Regions from separate parts of the Homo sapiens genome. Here all the other regions are reported to be linked to region 2. Evidence: microRNA targets listed by miRTarBase, many of them from high-throughput screens and not tested one by one. Region 2 holds a microRNA gene; each other region holds the end of a gene's coding sequence.

Evidence for each region. Region 2 holds the annotated microRNA hsa-miR-5584-3p (UAGUUCUUCCCUUUGCCCAAUU, at 1,214-1,235, opposite strand). A microRNA usually pairs through its seed, bases 2 to 8, with sites in the 3' UTR of a target mRNA and lowers its output. Matches are read on the target gene's strand: a 7mer-m8 pairs with bases 2 to 8, a 7mer-A1 pairs with bases 2 to 7 and ends in A, and an 8mer does both.
Region 1: miRTarBase lists POFUT3 as a target of hsa-miR-5584-3p. Seed matches in the 3' UTR shown: 7mer-m8 at 3,328-3,334.
Region 3: miRTarBase lists UGT2B28 as a target of hsa-miR-5584-3p. The part of its 3' UTR that is shown has no 7-base or 8-base seed match.
Region 4: miRTarBase lists IWS1 as a target of hsa-miR-5584-3p. The part of its 3' UTR that is shown has no 7-base or 8-base seed match.
Region 5: the mRNA of MAGEB4 is a reported target of hsa-miR-5584-3p. The part of its 3' UTR that is shown has no 7-base or 8-base seed match.

The regions. Positions count from the first base shown.
Region 1 is chr8:33,368,721-33,372,842 of GRCh38, forward strand. It overlaps POFUT3 (protein O-fucosyltransferase 3), which reads right to left. Exons shown (of 5, transcript NM_032664.3): 5 at 2,104-4,084. The coding sequence ends at 3,857. Among named protein-coding and RNA genes, the nearest start is that of POFUT3, 100 kb to the right of the region's middle.
Region 2 is chr1:44,542,644-44,546,765 of GRCh38, reverse strand. It overlaps MIR5584 (microRNA 5584), which reads right to left and starts at 1,273; the gene lies at 1,214-1,273. All of the region lies in intron 2 of RNF220 (ring finger protein 220), which reads right to left. RefSeq lists an enhancer at 530-1,056.
Region 3 is chr4:69,294,279-69,298,385 of GRCh38, forward strand. UGT2B28 (UDP glucuronosyltransferase family 2 member B28) reads left to right here. Exons shown (of 6, transcript NM_053039.2): 6 at 252-772. The coding sequence ends at 531. Among named protein-coding and RNA genes, the nearest start is that of UGT2B28, 16 kb to the left of the region's middle.
Region 4 is chr2:127,477,161-127,481,282 of GRCh38, forward strand. IWS1 (interacts with SUPT6H, CTD assembly factor 1) reads right to left here. Exons shown (of 14, transcript NM_017969.3): 14 at 3,652-4,015. The coding sequence ends at 3,884. Among named protein-coding and RNA genes, the nearest start is that of IWS1, 47 kb to the right of the region's middle. RefSeq lists an enhancer at 2,647-3,598.
Region 5 is chrX:30,242,560-30,246,681 of GRCh38, reverse strand. MAGEB4 (MAGE family member B4) reads right to left here. Exons shown (of 1, transcript NM_002367.4): 1 at 2,495-4,122. The coding sequence ends at 3,506. It also overlaps a transcript of MAGEB1 not described here. Among named protein-coding and RNA genes, the nearest start is that of MAGEB1, 2.5 kb to the left of the region's middle.

The sequences.
Region 1 (4,122 bases), not on the chromosome of region 2:
CAAATCTAAATAATATGCTCAGATCCAGCTTATACAATCAATCAGTGTACTGCATTTATGTGGTTTGCAAAGCTACTATAAAGAGGCTGTTTGAGTCTGATTATCCTATTGAGAGCTTTGTGCAAGACTCCACCAGAAATCCCATGGAGGGTGGGAAGAGTCAGAGAATAATTTAAGCATTCCTCAGTCCTTGGTTTTAATACCATCATAATATCAAAAAGCCCTACTCAAAACCCTTCACACCTCTCTCTCCTGTGTCTTATTCCTATCAGCAATGGCGCCTAGTACAATGCCTATTTTGTAACACAATAAATGTGTACCACCCCAGGTACTATCATCAACGATTCCCTTTTTCTGGACAAATCTCAGTCAAGCTCTTCAAACACAAAGGGTAATGACCACAGATAGCTGTAACCACTACAACAAGCATCTATTGAGCAAAGTGAACACTAGCTCATCACAATAACCTCACAAGGAGGTTGGATATTATAACATCCATTTTACAGATGAGCAAGCTGAATCTTAGAAAGGCCATATAACTTGACCAAGATAATAAAGACAGTATGTTGCAGAGTAGCAACTAAAACTAGATTATTTCTTAGAGTCATCATTCTATATCCCCTTTGAGTTTTTCAAGCATTTTTATGTCTGTAATCAAAGACAACAAGATATATGCTGATATTAGAATTACACAGTAAAGATATTACCATTAACAATAAAAATTAAAAGAAAGAAATTTCCTAAAGAAAATTTCCATAATTTATATTTTGCTCCAGAACTGTGAGCAATAAACTTCTGTTTCTTATAAGCCACCCAGTCTATCGTATTCTGTTACAGCAGCCTGAGGTCCTAATGAATTGCCATCTTTAGCAGGACTTATGTCCTATTAATGACTTTTTTAATGCACATTTTACTGGGCATTTTACTGGGCAGGTCGGCACTGTGCTTGAATTCATACAGTCTTTTATAGATATTGAGCAGGTTCTTCTATGTGTAATATACAATGTGTGGCTGAAGGAATGATGTTCATTTTTGCTTATGTCTCTTATTTCTGAGTAATGCATAGAACACTATATGTTTCCAATCTATTACTAACAATGATAATGACCCCAACTGATATTCTGGTTACTAGAATCTAGTCCTTAACAGCAACAAAGAAGCCATTCAGCATTCAGGTTCCAAAATATATTTGCTATATGATCAAGGGTAAAAGTTGCATTCATTTTTAGGCGAAGACTATTAACTAGCATTAGTGATCATTTTCTCCAACATTTCTGAAAAGGCTTCTGACCACTTTGTAATATTGCTTTTAAAAATTAGTCATTGAATGGCCAGGCGCAGTGGCTCAGGCCTATAATCCCAGCACTTTAGGAGGCCGAGGTGGGTGGGTCACTTAAGGGCAGGAATTCAAGACCAGCCTGGCCAATATGCTGAAACCCCATCTTTACTAAAAAAAAAAAAAAAAAAAAAAAAAAAAAAAAAAAATTGTCCAGGCCTGGTGGCAGGTGCCTGTAATCCCAGCTACTTGGGAGGCTGAGGCAGAAGAATCGCTTGAACCCAGGAGGTGGAGGTTGCAGTGAGCTGAGATCGCACCACTGCACTCCAGCCTAGGTGATAGAGCAAGACTTCTTCTCAAAAAAAATAAAGTTCTTGAAAACAATCCAAGTAAAATGTACTGAAGGGCTAAGCAAAATGTTGCATTGTACAAACTCCTTCACAGCCATGAGGCATTCCTCAAAACAGTCCTGTGAGGGACGTTGCTTTCTTAAAATATTTCACAAAAGGAGACAGTGAGGTAAAGTGAAAGGTATGGCAAAATGGGATCAACACAGATTAATGATTTTATTTCACTAAATTTGTTCAGGGATACATACTTCAGAAACGCTTAGAGAGGATTTTATCTATGGACTTGATGAAGAACTAAGATGGAATGAGATTTCATGAAAGTTAAGGTTTAAGACATACACACAGCACATAAGCACTGGGTATTTGCTGAAGGCATTTATGGAGAAGAACTGAAGTTATCATGATAATACCTTGCCAGAGGCATAAATCACCTCTCAGGCTTTCTTTTGAGGGTTCAAAAAAACACAACTCACTTCATTTTATATGCAATTTAAAATCTGACCTTTAACAAGGAATCCCCCTTTCCAGTCTTTATTTCTTTAATATTATCAAATAAAATGGCAGAGAGAGAAATTCCCTTTCATCCTCAATACTACCCATTAAGTATGCTCCTTCCTCCAAACAGCGTGCTTCCCTTGAATAACATACAGCAGTTCCAAAATAGTTTGTTACCCTCTTTAGTAAAAACATCTACAAAATTAAATTTCTTAAATGTTGATGAACAATGAAGAATGTTACACAGGGGAAAAAAAAGAAAAAAACCTTCCAAGACCAGCCCAATCACTTCTTTTTGGATGCAAAAACTAAGGCCGATGGAGGTTAAGAGATATGTCCAAGATCATATTTAGTTAATGAAAGAGCTGGGATTGGGAAGAACCCAGTTATAGACACCTTCTCTCATCCAATGTGATCCTTCTGGCTTCTATAAGGAGGTATTGGTTTTGGTTCTCCTTTCTCACACGCTGGCTGACAAAGCCCAGCCAGAGCTACCTAATGAAGACGCTGCTCACTGCTAAGCACACCAAGGGCACAGCCTTCAATACAATGAGAGCTGATGCTAAGCAAGCACTCGTCAATTCCCCCTCATGCCATGACACAGACATGAGCATCACAGACTCTTCCTGTCCTCTGGCTGCCTTCTGAGGCTTGTGGCTTTCCATGATGAAGAATGGAAATCATGACACAACAGTGGCAACAGGCTTTTAGTATCATCTAGAAACCTCCCCTCCCTCACATGGAAAGAAAACATGAGCCAGTGTTTTCCTCCTTGTCTTCTGAGGTGCTCCAGTAGATGCCCCAGACAGGAGAGCTGAACCTTCCCTATAGCAGGATCCGAAATGACAGGAAATGCCCACAAACTGAATGCCTGTGGCTGCCACTGTGACAGGCTGCACATCATCCTACGAACAGACAAATCAGCTTCAGCACAATTGGAGTTCCTGGGGGTATTCACTTCTACTCTCGCGCTGCTCAAAATGTCCAGGCTGTCCAGCCTGAATCATAAGCATAGCAATTCTTAATATTATTCTGCGCAGCAGAAGGGGTAAGTGGTAACATCTCACTAATCAAAACACACAGGAGTTACTGTGTCTTTACAAGACATTCTACTTTGAAGGGAAAATGGGAGGCGATAGGGCAAGGCACAACTAAAGAAAGTGAGAGAGGTGGCTCAGGGTATGGAGAAGAAGGTAGACACACATAAGTTCTTTTCACTTGAAGAGTGGATAGTGGATAAACTTGAAACAGCTTTTATTACTCACTTACATCCCTGGAAACCAACAGATGGGATCTCTCATTGCCAAGTTCTAATGTATTTCATGTTCATGCTCGGCTGCAGGATACCAGGTTTGCCAAATACCAATAAGCTGTTGAGAGTGAGGTGAGTATCAAGAATCTATAGCTAGATCGTCTCCCTCCATTGCACAAGGAAAGTACTCACTCTAGGTGAATTTCCACAAAAGGCAGTAAGTATGTGGGTCCACAGACACGGACATGGAAGATAACCAGTGTCCATAAGAAATATTTCCTTTTTTAGTATAAAAAATATAGTGGCTACCCCTAAGGGTAATTTACATCTATTCCTTGAAAGGGCTCATTATGAGTACTGCAGCAACTAATTATTATCCTGATGGATAGTCAACAGAATAGCTATTATGTTCAAATATTAAGGCAACCTAGAAAATAAACCTCAAGAAGGCTCTAGTCTGTTTCATTCTGATCATTTTTGAAATCAGTCCTTGAATACTAGGCCCCAAAACTCTTGAGATGAAAAGTTTTGATTCCTATCAACCAGCCACCTTAGTGCCTGGGCTTCTTTCTTGGATTGTTCAAAGCTGGAAATCCACATCTCTCGCAAAGAGCTCAAAGGTGGAGTCCGGAGTGGTGAGAAAGCAAACACTGTGGGCTCTGGGCAACTCAGGTGGGTATCTTCTGCCTCCCATCTTTTGGGTGGTAAGCCCTGCAGGAAGAGAAAAGAGAAATGAATTAAAAACATAT
Region 2 (4,122 bases):
CAGAGCTGGCTCAGAAGTCCCAGCTTTGGGGTGCCAGCGAGGGGTCAGGAGTGATGCCCGAGGTCTTACTTTTCAGAGCCAGAGCTCGGTGCATCAATGACTCTGAAGCAAGCACTCCATCTCGGGGTAACATGATCCTGTAACGCAGGGCTCCTCTGATGTGGTCTGCTTGCCTTTTACAGCATTAGGGGAGCAACATTTCATGGAAAATTCAATAAATCCCCCTGTACAGCCAGACGTCTGTAAACAATGGCTTCCAAATTCAATCAGGCTGGGGACCCGCAGCAGCATTTATGAGCTCTAACGTGGAATATTATATAGGGGAGTGAGTAGCAGGGGGCTGGGGGAAGGGACTTCCTGGAAGAAGAAAGCTCCTGTGTGGCTCCTGCTCTCAGATGTTGCGGTGGAGGTGATTCTCCAGGTAGAAGTCCTAGCCATGCGACCTCTTAGGCTGGGCCTGGGGGGCCACTGAGCCATGGCTCTGGGCCTGGGGAGGAGGACAGGGATCTGGCCTTCTGGTACTGGCCATGAAGAGGCTGGGTGGCCGGAAGAACCAGGACCGAGAGTGAGCTCGCCAGCTTCTCCTCCCACGTCCTGCAGCCCATGCTTACCTGGCAAGCAGTGTGAGTCATCTCGGGTGCTTATTGTCTTTGTCACACCTTCCACCTCCTTTTACAAACCTTCTACCCACTTTGGTTCTATGGTCTGGTGATGATCTTCAGAGAACTAGCCCCTTTCTCTCTCAGGTTCAGAATGCCCCTCACTCAGTTCAGAAAGGTTTGCAATGAGGTAGGAGAACATGCAAGAAAGGGTTTCTCCTCGTCTCTACTATAAATAGAAAATTAGCCGGGCGTGGTGGCGCATGCCTGTAATCCCAGCTACTCGGGAGACTGTGGCAGGAGAATTGCTTGAACCCAGGAGGTGGAGGTTGCAGTGAGCCGAGTTTGCGCCATTGCACTCCAGCCTGGGCAACAAGAGTGAGACTCCATCTCAAAAAAAAAAAAAAAATTGGGTTTCTGATGAAGAGGTTGCAGTATGCTGTTTTAGGGAGGCTCAGAGGTCTCACCCATCTTTAGGCCCCCTAGATATCTCCTCTCCTTGGCCCTGTGAACCCCTCTACACTCTGGTCAGGTCTCCTAGCCTCTGCACCCCCACCCCCACTGTTGCCCTTGCACCCTCTGCCAGGCTTTCTCCAGCAAACCACAAGGAGCATAATTGGGCAAAGGGAAGAACTAAAGGTCTGGATTCAAATCTAGTTCTTCCCATTTCCCTGTTATGGATCTTGGATTAGTCACTTCCTCCTCTGAATCTCAAGGTGGGAATAACGTGAACTGCCTTGCTGAGTGCCTGAGGATAAAATTAGATAATGGATGTAAAGTGCCTGAAAGTTAATGGCATGGAATCAGCATGAAATACACAGTAGCTTTCTTCTCCACAATTCTTCTCCTTTCAAACCTCCCTTCAATAAAGCTTCTTTTAATCCTCAGAAACTGCCCTCCCTCCAACCGAAGGTACCAGATGTCCCGTCAGCTCTTCTCTCTGTCCTGCACATCTCCGAGTTCCCTTTGTGACTGGCTCTTCTGTGAGGCCTGATTTGAATCCAACAGGAAGAGCATAGAAGATCACAATGGACCATGGCCACATGGAAGGGGTGGAGGCAACGCCGAGGTGTCCCGCTTGCCTTCCTAGAGAACTACGGCGTAAGCTCCTCAAGGGCAAGGATTTTAGCCCGCTTTGTTTGTGGCTCTATTCCCAGGGTCTAGAGCCATGCTTGACACTTGGTACATGCTCAATAAGTATTTCCTGGTTGCATTAACTCATTCAGCATCTTCTCACCATTTTCCTGTGGTTTTTCTCTGTACCCAGTGGGAGAATGGAGAGATTGCATTCCAGGACATACAACAACCCCTCCTGGAAATCAGAAATCCTCTCTTCCTTCAAAATGTCCTTGGAACACTGGTCAGGCATCCGCCGTGGAGTGGGCATGGAGCAGAATCACAGCCACAAGGCTTCTCCTTGCAGCCCACTGCTAGAAACAAACATGTCTTGGAAGGCAAAGTTCCACAAGGCTTTAGGCTAATCCATGCCCAGCCTTTGGAGATTGAAAGGATAACTTCCAGAAAGGTGAGCTAGAGATGCACTTCCCTCCTTCTCCGGAGGACAGTTCTATAGAGCCCTCAGTCAATCTTAAAACACAGGGCAACAGGGAGGAAAAGGTTGGCTAGCCCCAGAGCAATGCTGAGTGGCATTTATAAAGGATTTATCGTGTGCCAGACTCTGCACTCAGCACTTACATGCATGAACTCATTAAAACCTCGTGCTGGCTAGTACTGGTATTAGTCCCATTTTACCTATAAGGAAACTGAGGCTCAGAGAGGTTAAATAGCATGCCAAGATCACAGGGCCAAGAACAAGAGGAACAGGGTGATCCCAGGTCTGTCTGACTCCAGAGCACAAGTGACTACCCACTATAATCTACAGCCTCAGAAGACAGGGATGGAGAGCAGTCCTTGGCTCAGATGGTTCTGGGGCCCCGGCAGAGATCAAGCATTTTCCTGTCTGCTCCTGCTCTGTTCTTCTCCCACCCCCGCTCCAGTTCACAGTGGGCAACTGAGATCATTGTTTGGGAGTGGTTGTCTCCTGTGGTCCTCCCGACCTCTTGCTGGGTATTCCCTGGGGATGAGGAGGAAGATGGGACAGGGTCAGGGGAGAGCTGCTGCTCTCTGTCCCCAGCTCCACAGGCCAGTGGGATGCTCTGCTGTCCAGCTGGGACCAGTTCCGGGCAACTGGGCATAATGCAAGAGTTCTCACCCCGGGCCCAGGCTGGAGATAGGCTGCTTGCTCCACCACTCGCCACTGCCCAGTAATCCCACTCATCTGGAGGAAGGAGATTCTTTGGGATCAGAGCTGGCGTTGACCTTTTGGTTTTTCCATTTGGCAGGACGGGGGAGGGGTTCAAGAAGGCAGATCCCAGAGATATCTCCCCCCACAGCCAGATACCCAGCTTTTGGGGTTCTGGGATTGACTCCTGAAGTCGTTACATGTGAAATGCTTGCATGTATTTTTTTTTAATGCCCAAAACATGATGCAATGTTTCCTGTACACCCCGGTCACGTACTCTTGTACATGCACACACGGCTTCCACGTTGACTTCTGTGACTAGCCCCTTCCGTGCTCCGGCTTGCTTTTGCTCTCTCTACTTCCCCCTCCCTCTCTCTCTCTCATTCTCCCTGCTAGCTGCTGTAAGGATCAGTCCCCAAAGAAAAATGCCCAATTTGTCATGTCATGTCCAGCTGTTAACCTCCCGTCGGTAAGCCATGGGGAAGACTTACTTTCTCCTATTTATTTATTTGCCACTTGGACAATAGAAGGCCCCAGGCCTGCTGAGTTCTCCATAATAAAGCCACCAACGATCTCCCCCATCACCCCCTCCCCTCCCCCCAGCCCCATGTCAACAACACTAGCCAACCTGCAGGTGTCACTGGGCATTAACCCCAGGCTTAACTCTGGCTCTGCTCAACCGGAGGGAAGGGGGAGGGGGTAGCCGGCGAAGGTGGGGGGTCTGACGGGGAGGTCTCTGCACAAAGAGGAAGGCCTGGGGATGGGCTGGCTCAGAACCATCCCTCCGGAAAGCTCACTGTGCTGAGGCTGGGGGAGGGAGGGAGGGATCAACCAAATAATGCAGCTCCTTCTTCCCAGCTCTCCGATGGTCTCCAGGCAGAGCCTTGGCCAGCCGGTGGCAGGCGCCTGGGCTCACCGCACCTAGCAACACTGCCGAGAGACAGGGCCCTCCAGGAATGAGGCCCAGTGCGGCTGGCCCTGGAGCGGGCCTGGGAGGGGCTGGGGCAGGGAGGGGAGGCGCAGACCCTCCGGCCCCCAGCCCCACTCAAGGTAACCACTCCTTTCTCCAGCACTGCCTTCCTCCCCTCTCCAGCCTTCTTTGGTCAGCCCAATTTGCTACAGGAGAACTCGAGGGTTCAGGGGAAGCTGCTAGCAACGTCCCAAGGCTGGGCTCCCTGTCTCCCTGTGGATTAAATGAGAGGTGGTGGGGCAGGGGCCTGGGCAGCCCTTCCTTCTGTTCAGATGTCAGAGTGAGTTACGGATCACCCTGAAGTGCAGCCC
Region 3 (4,107 bases), not on the chromosome of region 2:
TTCTCTGCTTGAAAAAAATTAATTTTCTCACCTGACCTTCCATTTCTGCTTTAAAAATGTTTGTCAATGAGAAAAGTCCAATTTAAAAGCCCAACTATCTATGATGACTCAAATTAAAATACACAAATTCTCTGTCAATTCTTTCAAATTTACTTTGAATTATTTGACACTTTAAAAGCCTTTCATAGACTTGATACATACAGGCCAGTTAACTTACTTTCAGTGTTGGTATCTTTATTTTTATCCTTCAGATATAAAGAGAATGTTATGAAATTATCAATAATTCAACATGATCAACCAGTAAAGCCCCTGCATCGAGCAGTCTTCTGGATTGAATTTGTGATGTGCCACAAAGGAGCCAAACACCTTCGAGTTGCAGCCCGTGACCTCACCTGGTTCCAGTACCACTCTTTGGATGTGATTGGGTTTCTGCTGGCCTGTGTGGCAACTGTGATATTTGTCGTCACAAAGTTTTGTCTGTTTTGTTTCTGGAAGTTTGCTAGAAAAGGGAAGAAGGGAAAAAGAGATTAGTTATGTCTGACATTTGAAGCTGGAAAACCAGATAGATGGGTTGACATCAGTTTATTCCAGCAAGAAAGAAAAGATTGTTATGCAAGATTTCTTTCTTCCTGTGACAAAAAAAAAAACTTTTCAAAATCTACCTTGTCAAGTAAAAATTTGTTTTTCAGAGATTTACCACCCAGGTAATGGTTAGAAATATTCTGTGGCAATGAAGAAAACACTAGGGAAAATAAAAAATAATATAAAGCCATATGAGCTCATATTGAAATTTGTTGCACTTATATTGAGATTTGTTGTTTGAATTCACAAGTTACATAAAAATATTACTCAGTTTAACTACATTTCACACATTTTATATAAACACAAGAACATTAAGAAGTCTACTGACAGTATCAGTAGTGTTTTGCACATACTCAGAATAATTTGGCTTCATTTTGAACAGGATTCGGTTGTTTTAACTGTTGCTAAAGAAACTATTACATAGTTAAATTGTATAAAAAGTCTCTCTCTTCCTTTTGATATCTTGAGATAAGTAGTATTGCTTTACTTTTACACTGCATGCAGCTTCATTGTCACATTTTTTGCTAAAATTGATGGCCAAATGTTTACTGTTTTAAGAGCATAAGTCATTTCTCAGTGGAAATTATGTGAAATTAGAAATATAGCCACTGTTACCTGCTTCCTACTGTAAAATTGAACTGTTTTGCCACATCTTTGGTTTCATGAGCAAATTCTATTTTTTCCAGATATTTAAAGATATTTTTCTCGTTGATTTTATTCTGATATTTTTAATTACTTCAATAGTTATTTGGGAACAGGTGGTGTTTGATTAGATGCATACGTTTTTTAGTGGTAATTTCTGAGGTTACGTGGCACATATCATGTGAGAAGTGTACCTTGCACTGAATGTATACTCTTTATCCCTCACCCCCTCCCACACTCCCATCTGAATCCTTAGAGCCCATTACATCATCTTTATGCTTTTGCATCCTTATAGCTTAGATCCCACTTAGAAGTGACAATTGACGATGTTCAGTTTTCTATTCCTGAATTTCTTCACTTAGAATAATGCTCTCCCACTTCATGCAAGTTGCTGTTAATGCCATTAGTTTGTTTCTTTTTACAGCTTAGTAGTATTCCATGGTATATATATATATATATATATATATATATATATATAGTGTATATGCGTGTGTATACGTGTGTGTGTGTGTGTGTTTGTGTGTGTTTGTATCAGGGGAACCCACCTTCAATATTTCAATGTAGGTTCTTCCCATTTTCCATAAGTGTTGGCCAGCTGAGAAATAAAGAGAAAGAGTACAAAAAGAGGAATTTTACAGCTGGGCTGCCGGGGGTGACATCACATATTGGTAGGACCATGATGCCCACCTGAGCCTCAAACCAGCAGGTTTTCTATTAAGGGTTTCAAAAGGTGGGGTGGGGAGTTGTGTAGGAACAGGGAGTAGGTACAACGATCACATGCTTCAAAGGACAAAAGGCAGAACAAAGATCACATGCTTCTGAGGGAACAGGACAAAGGGCAAAGCAGAACTACTGATAAGGGTCTATGTTCAGTGGTGCATGTATTGTGTTGATAAATATCTTAAACAACAGAAAACAGGGTTCGAGAGCAGAGAACTGGTCTGACCACAAATTTACCAGGGTGGAGATTTTCCCCACCCTAATAAGCCTGAGGGTATTGCAGGAGACCAGGACATACCTCAGTCCTTATCTCAACCACGTAAGACAGACATTCTCAGAGTGGCTGTTTATAGACCTCCCCCCAGGAATGCATTCCTTTCCCAGATTACTAATATTAATATTCCTTGCTAGGCTAAGAATTTAGCGATATCTTCCCTACTTGCACGTCCATTTATAGGCTCTCTGAAAGAAGAAAAAATGGCTCTTTTTGCCCCACCTCACAGGCAGTCAGACCTTATGGTTGTCTTCCCTTGTCCCCTAAATGTTGTTGTTATTCTGTTCTTTTTCAAGGTGCACTGATTTCTTATTGTTCAAACACACATGTTTTACAAGCACTTTGTACAGTTAACACAATTATCACAGTGGCCCTGAGGTGATGTACATCCTCAGGTTATGAAGATAACAGCATTAAGATATTAAAGTAAGACAGGCATAAGAAATTCTAAAGGTATTATTTGGGAACTGATAAATGTCCATATTAAAGTGAAATCTTCACAATTTATGTTCCTCTGCCTCAGCTCCACCCAGTCCCTCCATTCGGGATCCCTGACTTCCTGCAACATCTGTGTGTGTGTGTTTGTATGTATACCACATTTTCTTTATCCACTTATTGGTTGGTTGATGGGCATTTAGGCTTGTTCCATTCTTTTTCTTTTTTAATTGCGAATAGTACTGTTGCAAACATGTATGTGTGTGGGTCTTTTTCATATAAAAATTTTCTTTCCTCCGGGAAGATACACAGTAGTGCGATAGGTGGATCAAACTGTACTTCTACTGTAATTTCTTATAGAAATCTTCATATGGTTTTCCATATTACTTGTACTAGTTTACATTCCCATAGCAGCATAAAACTGTCCCCTTTTTACCACATCTATGCCAACATTTTATTATTTTTGGATTTTTAAATTATATTCATTCTTTCAGGAGTATAGTGGTATTGCATTGTGGTTTTGATTTGCATTTTCCTGATAATTAGTGAAGTTGAGCATTTTTTCATATATGTTGGCCATTTATATATCTTCTTTTAAGAATTGTCTATTTATTACATTAGGCTACTTTTTGGTGGGTTTTTGCTTTTTTTTAGCCATTTGAAGATTCTGGACATTAGTCCTTTGTCAGATAAATAGTTCATGAATATTTTCCACTATTCTGTGAGTTGTCTGTTTACACAGATGATTATTTCTTTTGCTGGCGGAAGTTTTTAGTTTGATTAAATCACAACTCTTTATCTTTGCTTTAGTTGCATTTGCTTTTGGATATTTGGTCATGAGGTTTTTGCCTAACCTAATGTCTAGAAGAGTTTTTCCAATGTTACTTTCTAGAATTTGTTATTGTTTCAGGTCTTAGATTTCATTATTTGATCCATCTTGAGTTGACTTTTTATAAGGGAGAGACAAAGATGCAGTTTCATTCTTCTACATGGGGATTGCCAATTATTCCAGCCCCATTTGTTGAATAGGGTGTCATTTCCCCACTTTATGTTTCTGTTTGCTTTGTCAAAGTTCAGTGGGCTGTAAGTACTTGTCTTTATTTCTGGAATTTCTCTTCTGTTCCATTGATCGATATGCCTGTTTTTATACTGATACCATGTTGTTTTGGTAACTTGTAATATGCCTTGTAATACTTTGGGTAATGTGATGCCTGTAGGTTTGTTCTTTTTCTTAGTCTTTCTTTGGCTATGCAGGTTTCAAAACTGAGAATCAAATAAAAAACTCATCCATTTTGAAAATAGTTGCAAAAGAAAAAGAAAAACAAAACAAATTACTAAGGAATCTACCTAACCAAGAAGGTGAAAGAACTCTACAAAGAAAACTACTAAACACTGCTGAAAAATGTCGTAGATGACACAAACAAATGGAAATATATCCCATGCTCATGGATGGG
Region 4 (4,122 bases), not on the chromosome of region 2:
TCACACGTCCTGACTTCAGTGGGGACAGACACACAGACAGTTCTATATTGCAACATGCAGACCAATGGAAAAGAAGAAAGTCCAGAAATCAACTCTTACACATATGGTCAAATGATTTTTGAAAAGACTTGCAAGACCATTCCATGGGGAAAATAAGTTTTTTTCAGTAAATGTTGCTGGGGAAACTTGATATCCATATGCAAATGGATAAAGTTGGAACCTTATTTTACACAACATACAAAAAATCAACTAGAAATGGATCAAAGACCTAAACATAAGAACTAAACTTACAAAATTATAGGGTAAAAGCTTCATAATATTGAATTTGGCAATAATTTTTTTGATATGACACCAAAAGCACAGGCAATAAAAGAAAAAAGTGAGATACAGCAAAATTTAAATGTGTGCAACGAAGAACACAATCAAGAGTGAAAAGGCAATCTAAAGAATGAAAGAGAGTATTTGCAAATCATATAGCTGATAAAGCATTAACATGAGTACACAAAGCACTCCTACAACTCACACCAAACAACCCAATATAAAACTGGGCAAATGACTTGAATAGACATTTCTCCAAGGAAGATATATAAATGGTCAAAAAGTACATTAAAAGATGCTCTACATCACTATCATTAGGGAAATGCAAACTAAAATCACAAGATACCACCTCACATCACTTAGGATGGCTACCATCAAAAAATAAAAATAACAAGTGTTAGCAAGCATATGGAGAAATTGGAACTCTTGTGTACTATTGGTGGGAATATAAAATTGTGTAGCCCCTTATGGAAAGTGTATGTATGGCACTTTCTAAACAAATTTAAAATGGAATTACCATATGATCTAGCAATTCTACTTCTAGGTATATAACCAAAAGAATTGGAAAAAAAAATGGTTGTTTTTTAATATCTCTAAAAGTGAAGAAAAAAAGGTCTTGAACAAATACTTGTACACCCATGATCACAGCAGCGTTATTCACAATAGCCAAAGGTGGAGGCAACCCAAGTGTCCATTGACAGATGAATGGACAAACAAAATGTGGTATATACACACACTGGAATATTATGCAACCTTAAAATGCAAGGAAATTTGGACACATGGACAAACCTTGAGGACATTATACCAAGTGAAATAAGACAGTCGCAAAAAGACAAATGTATGATTCCACTTATATGAGGTACCTAGAACAGACAACTCGTAAGAGACAGAAAGTAGAATGGTGGTTGCCAAGAGCTTGGGGGAGGAAGGAGAGTTCTTTGATAGGTAGAGTTAAAATTTTGCAAGATGAGAAGATTTCTGAAGATGAATGGTGGTGATGGCGATACATTGTGAACATACTCAATGCCACTGAGCGGTAAAACTGTTTAAGATAGTAAATCTTAAAACCGGAAGGGGAAGAAAAAAAGCCAAGCATGAGAGTGCATGCCTATAGTCCCAGCCACTTGGGAGGAGACTGAGGCAGGAAGATTGCTTGAGCCTGGGAGTTCAAGGCTGCAGGGAGCTAGGATCACACCACTGCACTTCAGCCTGGGCGACACAGTAAGAACCCATCTCTTAAAAAACAAACAAAATCCCCCACAACTCTGTATCATCATAGCCAAGTTGTCAAAGTTAGTATCATCAATTCTGGGACAAAACTAAAGTCTATGTTCTTGGAAGAAATATGCTGAAGTATTTGGGGCTCAAGGGGCAAGTTGTCGGCAAGTTACTCTGAGTCTGCAAAAATAGCTCTATGCATATACAAGATGACAGAGTCAATGACGTGGCAAAACGTTAACACTTGGTAAATATCAGTGAGTATACCGGAGTTTATTTACTATTTTTGCAACTACTATAAATTGGAAATATCTTCAAAATTAAAGGTTTTTCTGGCCAGCTAGGTTTGAGCTGCCATAAAACCAACACCAAGGATCATTTATATAGAAACTAATTTTTTCCTTCAAACACAGTACAGGAGAATCTCTTACCATTTTGAATTCCCCGGGTATGGTTTAAAACTTTTTACTTGCCAACATCGTTAAAGTTTTACCCTGTAATAGTGAAATTTTCAGGTAATTGGAGCTTACCCCATTAAATGACAAAATTGTGTAACTTAAAAATCTTTCTTAAATACAACCTTTGTTGTCTTTGTTTCAAATTTATTTTTTAATGATCAGTGTAAGGCTTCACTAGATGCCTCTGCTTTTTCCTTCTCAAGTGTTTTTGAGGGTATTTGTATGAAACATTGCAGAAAAGCTTAGGTTTTTGTCTCCATCTAGTGGCTAGCTATTACCTTCTAATGCCTTTATGCACCTGCTTTTTACAAAGCACTATATCCCACTGTGCTTCTGCGTTTGCTGGAAGTAAATAGTTTGAGAGTTTCTTGTGAGCAGTGTTTTAGTATCTAAACTTCATTATTTTAGCTGTTCAAAGGCTTTTTTGGCCAAAAGTAGTTTTATGTGTTTCTGAAGATCAAGGTGCCAATCCGTATCAGAATAGGATTTCTGAAATTAAAATAATCTAGTTGATAAAACGTTCTTGGGCCTCGTCATCTTGACCTTAAGAGACCTCTCATAATTAAGTCTATAGAGACTATTATCACAAAAATAGAGCAACAAGAAACATAGCTACAAGCTATAATTTTTCTCTCTCCTCTAACTGCTCAACTGCTCTAAGCTTTCGGCATAGTGATTTTCAGTTATATCCATATTTCCTTGAAGACAGTAGTATTTCTTGATCTTTTCTCTGTTATAAGCCCCCATCCCAGAGAAAAATGAAAATCAAAATAATTATCCCAAATAAGAGAAACACATTAATAAGATTTTGTTGGTATTCCATTTCCACCCCAACTGAGGTACTGCAATTCAATTCTGATACGACACACCCAGAGCTGGCATCAGACTCCACGGGTTTAAGAGGTCAGTCCTCCACAATACTGCCCCCACTTCAGATGCAAGCCACAAGTGAGGCATCCAGGCTACTGTCGCTTCTGACCAGCTACAAATTTGGGGTTCTCATAAACCTCTCAGGTTTAAGAACTTGCTGAAATGACTCACAGAACTCAGGAAAGCACTATCCTTCCCTAGAAAACACTATGATTAGTTTTACTACAGAAGATATGAATTAGGAGGGCCAGTCAAATGAAGGGATACATAAGGGAAGGTCTGGGAGGGAAGGCAGAGCTTCTGTGCCCCTGTCCTCATGGAGGGGAATCCTCTCCCTCCCAGCACACCAATGCTTTCACCAACCAAGAAGCGTCATTGAGCTGTGGGGTCCAGAGCTCTTCATCAGGTCCCATTTGGCAGGCATGGTTGATTAAATCAAACAGGTCACTGACTGCGTCTCAATCTCCCGGGTCCTGCTGGCCCAACCCTCTGTAGTAGCTGTTTCTGGTTACCAGCCTCCACCCTAAAGCCCACCATACAGTCACCTCGTTAGCATAACAAGAGACGCTCTATCACTCAGGAAACCACAAGTGTTTTAGACATTCCTTGTCAGCAACCAGGGGCAAAGGCCACACAAATTCCTCATTATACCACAATGAGGGAGGATTGAACCTCTAAGGGTCACAAACCCCTATAATATCATAAGATTTTTTCCCACACAACAAGAAACAATCTTTGCCCCTATTAAGAATGTATCCTCTAAGAAATGAAGAGACAGCCCCCCAAAAACCAGAATGAAATTTTATTGTGTAAAGTTTATAGAAGTATGACTAGTATTCCTTTGTACAAAGTACACAACGGTTTTAAATATAACTGAGAGAAATGTGAGTCCTATGACAACATCTGATACACGCTGAACCATTTACAGACACACTAAAAATGTTTTAAAATATCTTCTTTCTCCAAAGAGTCCATTGCGCATTTCTTAGAGTAGAGATGGGGACACATTCCAGGCAAGGTCACAATGGCATTTTGTTGCCCTCAATGCTGATTTTCACTGCGTGTGCAGATCTGCTTTTTTTCCTTATATCTGTGAACTTTCTCATCTGTTTATCCAGTCGACTGATACCCTTCTTGGAGGTCGCCTGAAACTAAGAGTAAGGGAAAAATTAAAGAGCAAACTACTGAAATACGTAAGTCTAGTTATGTCTTTCATCTTCTTATAACTGAGTTAGCAACCAGAAGAGCTTCTAGCTCT
Region 5 (4,122 bases), not on the chromosome of region 2:
AATTCTGTGGGGACTCATCTGCTGGTGGAGTCCCCTCTTAACACTTAAAAGCCCTACATTGATTCTTGTTAGGGTCTCGGCCTCTTCGCTCTGTAAAACTGAGGCTGCCCCAATTAGACGGAACCAGTCATCTCCCTGAGACTTTCCAGGCAGAATTCAGCCTGCCATCTCCGCCAAGGCTTCCTAGGGCTGACAGCAGAGGGGACTTTGTGAGGCCATGTGGGTGCTAGCTACCCTTAGTCCACATTCAGGTCCTCACCTTGACAAGTGAGCAAACCTGTAACTTACCCTTTGTTTACCTGAACCTGCTCCTCTCACATCAAGGTCCTGTTTTCTGAGAATTTCGAGTTGTACTCCTGGATGATCTTCATATGATCACAGTCCTTTTGCAACCTGCAAAAACAGATAATAAGGAAAGGACTCCATAGAACCCCACAGTTTTGGCTGGGTCCTTCCATCAGTCTTCATTTATGCTCCTCGCCTTTACATGTATCAGAACCTGGGACTCCTCTATCTACTGAACTGAGGTCACTCTCCTGAGGGTCTGGATGAACCCTTACATTTTGGAGTGGTTTTCTCCCCACCATTCATTCATGAGGGTTCTCATGTTGGCTTCTGTCTCTTGATCAAACTCTTCCAGGGAAATGTCACATCCCTGCAAAAATTTGACCAGTTTCCTCTTTGCAAACCTTGCAGAGAAGAGGTCCCTGTCCCAGAAGTGATGTGATGTTGGGAAACTGAAACGGAAGGTGGAGAGCCTAGGACAGATGTTGTGCTCTCAGGGAAAAAAACATGCTGATCTATTCCTTCACTTCACCAACCAAAGGGTAGTTCTAAAAGTTTTACTTTCTACAGAAAAGGGTGGAGCCAGATGATTTTTGTAATCTTTTGATCTTTTGAAGCTATCCAATTTTGCTTCTGTCGGTGATCATATTGTCACCGAGTATTATTTCTTTTTCTCTTTAATTCACATCTGTCAATTATTTTGGTATTCTTCTTGCTCTGGTTATGTATTCCAATCCAGTGTTTGGGGTACAGAGACCTCTTCTTTCTTACCTGAGACACACTTTGGGGTTGTAGAAGAAAATGAATTAAGCAATTCACAGTAAGCTTCAGTTTGGGAGGAGTGGAACAGTGTGGGCTCTAGAGGAATTCAGACCAGCAGTCTAGTTCCAGCCCTATCACTTACTAGCTGTGTGAACTTGGGCACATTAATAAACTCTATGAGCCTCAGGCTCTACATCTGTGAAATGAGCTTGATAAGCCTTGTCTTGTAGGACTGGTGGAATGTGGTGAAAGTGTGCAAAGCCCTGGTGTGCATTGAGACTTTAAACAATACTTGTTATTACTAAGATTATTTCAACTACAGAAGAAATCATCCACCCTGCTGATTTTCTTTAAGTCCAAGAGATAACAAAGAATATACAGCATTCTAAGACATGGAACAATAAAATCAGCCCAAAACGCAGCTTACAAAGAAACTCTAAATAACTTTTCCATATTAAATCATATTTTGAGTGTGGAGTTGTCTTTCTCAGCTGAAAGCAACTCAAACCTTCTAGGCTTTGGTTCAAGGACCAACTCTGACCTTTCATCCAAACCAGTCTTATTTTCATTCATTTTACCACCATCAAAAATCTAGATCTCCCTTAGAATTTGCAAAAACACATGAAAGGAAAAAAAATTCCTTTTAATGGAATGGGTTCTGGCTCCCCAGCTGATAGCAGAGTATTAGCCCAGTGGCTTATGAGTTTCCAGTCTTAAAGGAGTATCACCTTTATTTCTCAGAAACACCCTGGGGACTACGCTCATAAAACACCTAGTTTGTGTACTGGATTCACTTCACTTGCACTGGGACAAGAGCACCGGCCACTTTCAATCCCTGCTCCAGGCAAAGATCCCCTCTGGTTTTTCCACAATCCCAAAGTAACTGTTAAAGGCAATTTTTCATTCCAGTCTCCATCTCTCAAGTGTGAGATCCACCATCTGAGTGTGTGACCCCTGCTCAGTGCGCCCCATATAGGCACTATGCCAGGACATAAAATTACCTCCTATTGCAGTATGTTCAGTTTCCCGAAGTCTCAGTTACCTTGCTTAGGACATTTACACTAGATTCCACTGCTGGTAATACCCCCACCTTCTTTTTTATCCCCTTTTCACCTGTCTTTAGGTCTTAAGGAGTATCTCATTACCTTCGTTATATGATAGCTGCTGTTGGATTCTAAAATTCTGTGGGCAGGGATTGGGGTTTTTTTGTTGTTTGTTTGTTTTTTGTTTTCTTAGCTTATCCGGTACTAGCCAGGAGCCCTCCAAAGTACAGCTGCTCAATTAATATTTGGACAATTGAAGTGTAAGTGACCAGGAAGTCAAATGTATTGCTATTTAATTTCCCCCACATTCCTGAAAAAGCTAAGCAGATCCGGGTACATATACTTCAGTTTTACAAAGAAAGACTAAAAAGAATAAAACAAAGCAAGAATTGACCACATTTTACTTTTTTTTTCTCTACTTCCTGGTCCCACCAACTTTATTGCAAGGTAATTTCCTTTTCACAAATTCCATATTCCAATGCCATATTATCTTGTTCTAGATCACAGAAAAAGACTTAAAAGATTTTTAAATTGTTTTACATAATGCAAAAATTCTCACTCTCCAACCTGATATATTTTAATAAATGAGTGATTCATGCCATTCATAAACTTAGATTCTGAAACTAAATAAATCTACAATTTAAAAAAAGAACACTGAAAAACAGGAAAAAGAAAAGATAAATCATTTTACATACAAATATGTTATACATGGTGTTCCCACCAACTCCCCTTTGGCTCTCCATTAATTAGAAGGTTAAGTGTTTTCTTAATCAAAAGTAAAGAATATACCTCAGACTTCACAAGGAGTGGGAGACACTGCTGGACACCACACTGAAACATGCCAGGCCCAGTTGCAACACTGTCTCTGGCTCTCTCTCCCTCATCTCTTAAAGTCTTCTCTTAATGGAGGGAAGACAATGGAGACACTGTCATTGACCTTGGCCCAGGCCTCCACATTCTTGAATAATCTAAGCAAACCAGGTATGTAACTTTTAAATTTATGAGCAAAAAAAGACTGAACTGAGTAAGACAAACCACGAATAAAGCAACTTTTACTTTTCTTCCCTTTCTATCTTCAGATTCTACCTATTTTACTGTGGAGTTATTTTAAATTTCTAAGGATAACCTTACTCCCATGCCGTGTTATTTTGCTCTGTATCACAAAAATTATTTCAGGATTTTCTATTTGTATTTCAAAAACAAAATTATTATCACTAAACCAACCTGATAAACAGCAATAAATGTGTGATGCATGCCATTTCTAAATTTATATTCTGAATCTAAATAAACTTTCTATTTTAAGAAACATCATGGAAAATACAACAAAGAGATAAATCAATGAGTTATTCATGCATCACAGGAACAGAGAAAGCAGCAGGTCTTTCAACCACAAAGTGAACAATTTGCCTTAGATCTCACATGGGTTGGGAAGAGCTACTGGATGTGGCCCTGGAATACGCACTAGTCATGGCTGTAGTGCCACGCCTGGCTGCAACTCTGGGCCGGGCTCCAGCTCTCTCTTCTTCATCTCTCAAAGCCTCTTCATAAAGCAGTGGGAAGTTATTGGGGGTGGTGTCATTCACCTTGGCCAAAAACTCCAGGACTTTCATCTTGCTGGTTTCTGCATGAGCTCTTGGACCCCACAGGAATTGATAGCGTGGGGGATCACTGTTGGGCACCTGCTGGTATTCCAGATATTTTTCCTGTACCAGATCTTGGGTGATGAGCTTTCGGGGTTCCCCAAAGATAAGGTGCCTCTTTCCATCATAGATCCCCAGCATATTCAGGAATTCCCAGATTTCCTCTTCACGGGCACAGTTGCCATTTAAGAAGATCACACTCAGTAGAGGCATCAGAAGCCCATTCCTTGGAAGGGTCCAGGCACTGCTCTGGTTTCCATCGTTGGGGCCTAGCATGCTGACGAGGATGTAGGAGTGAGTGGTGGGGTTGACCTCCTTCAAGGCAAGGCCAAAGACCAGCTCCGTGCGCTGAGAGACTTTCCTGAAGATCTCAGGGAAGTGCTCCTTGTACT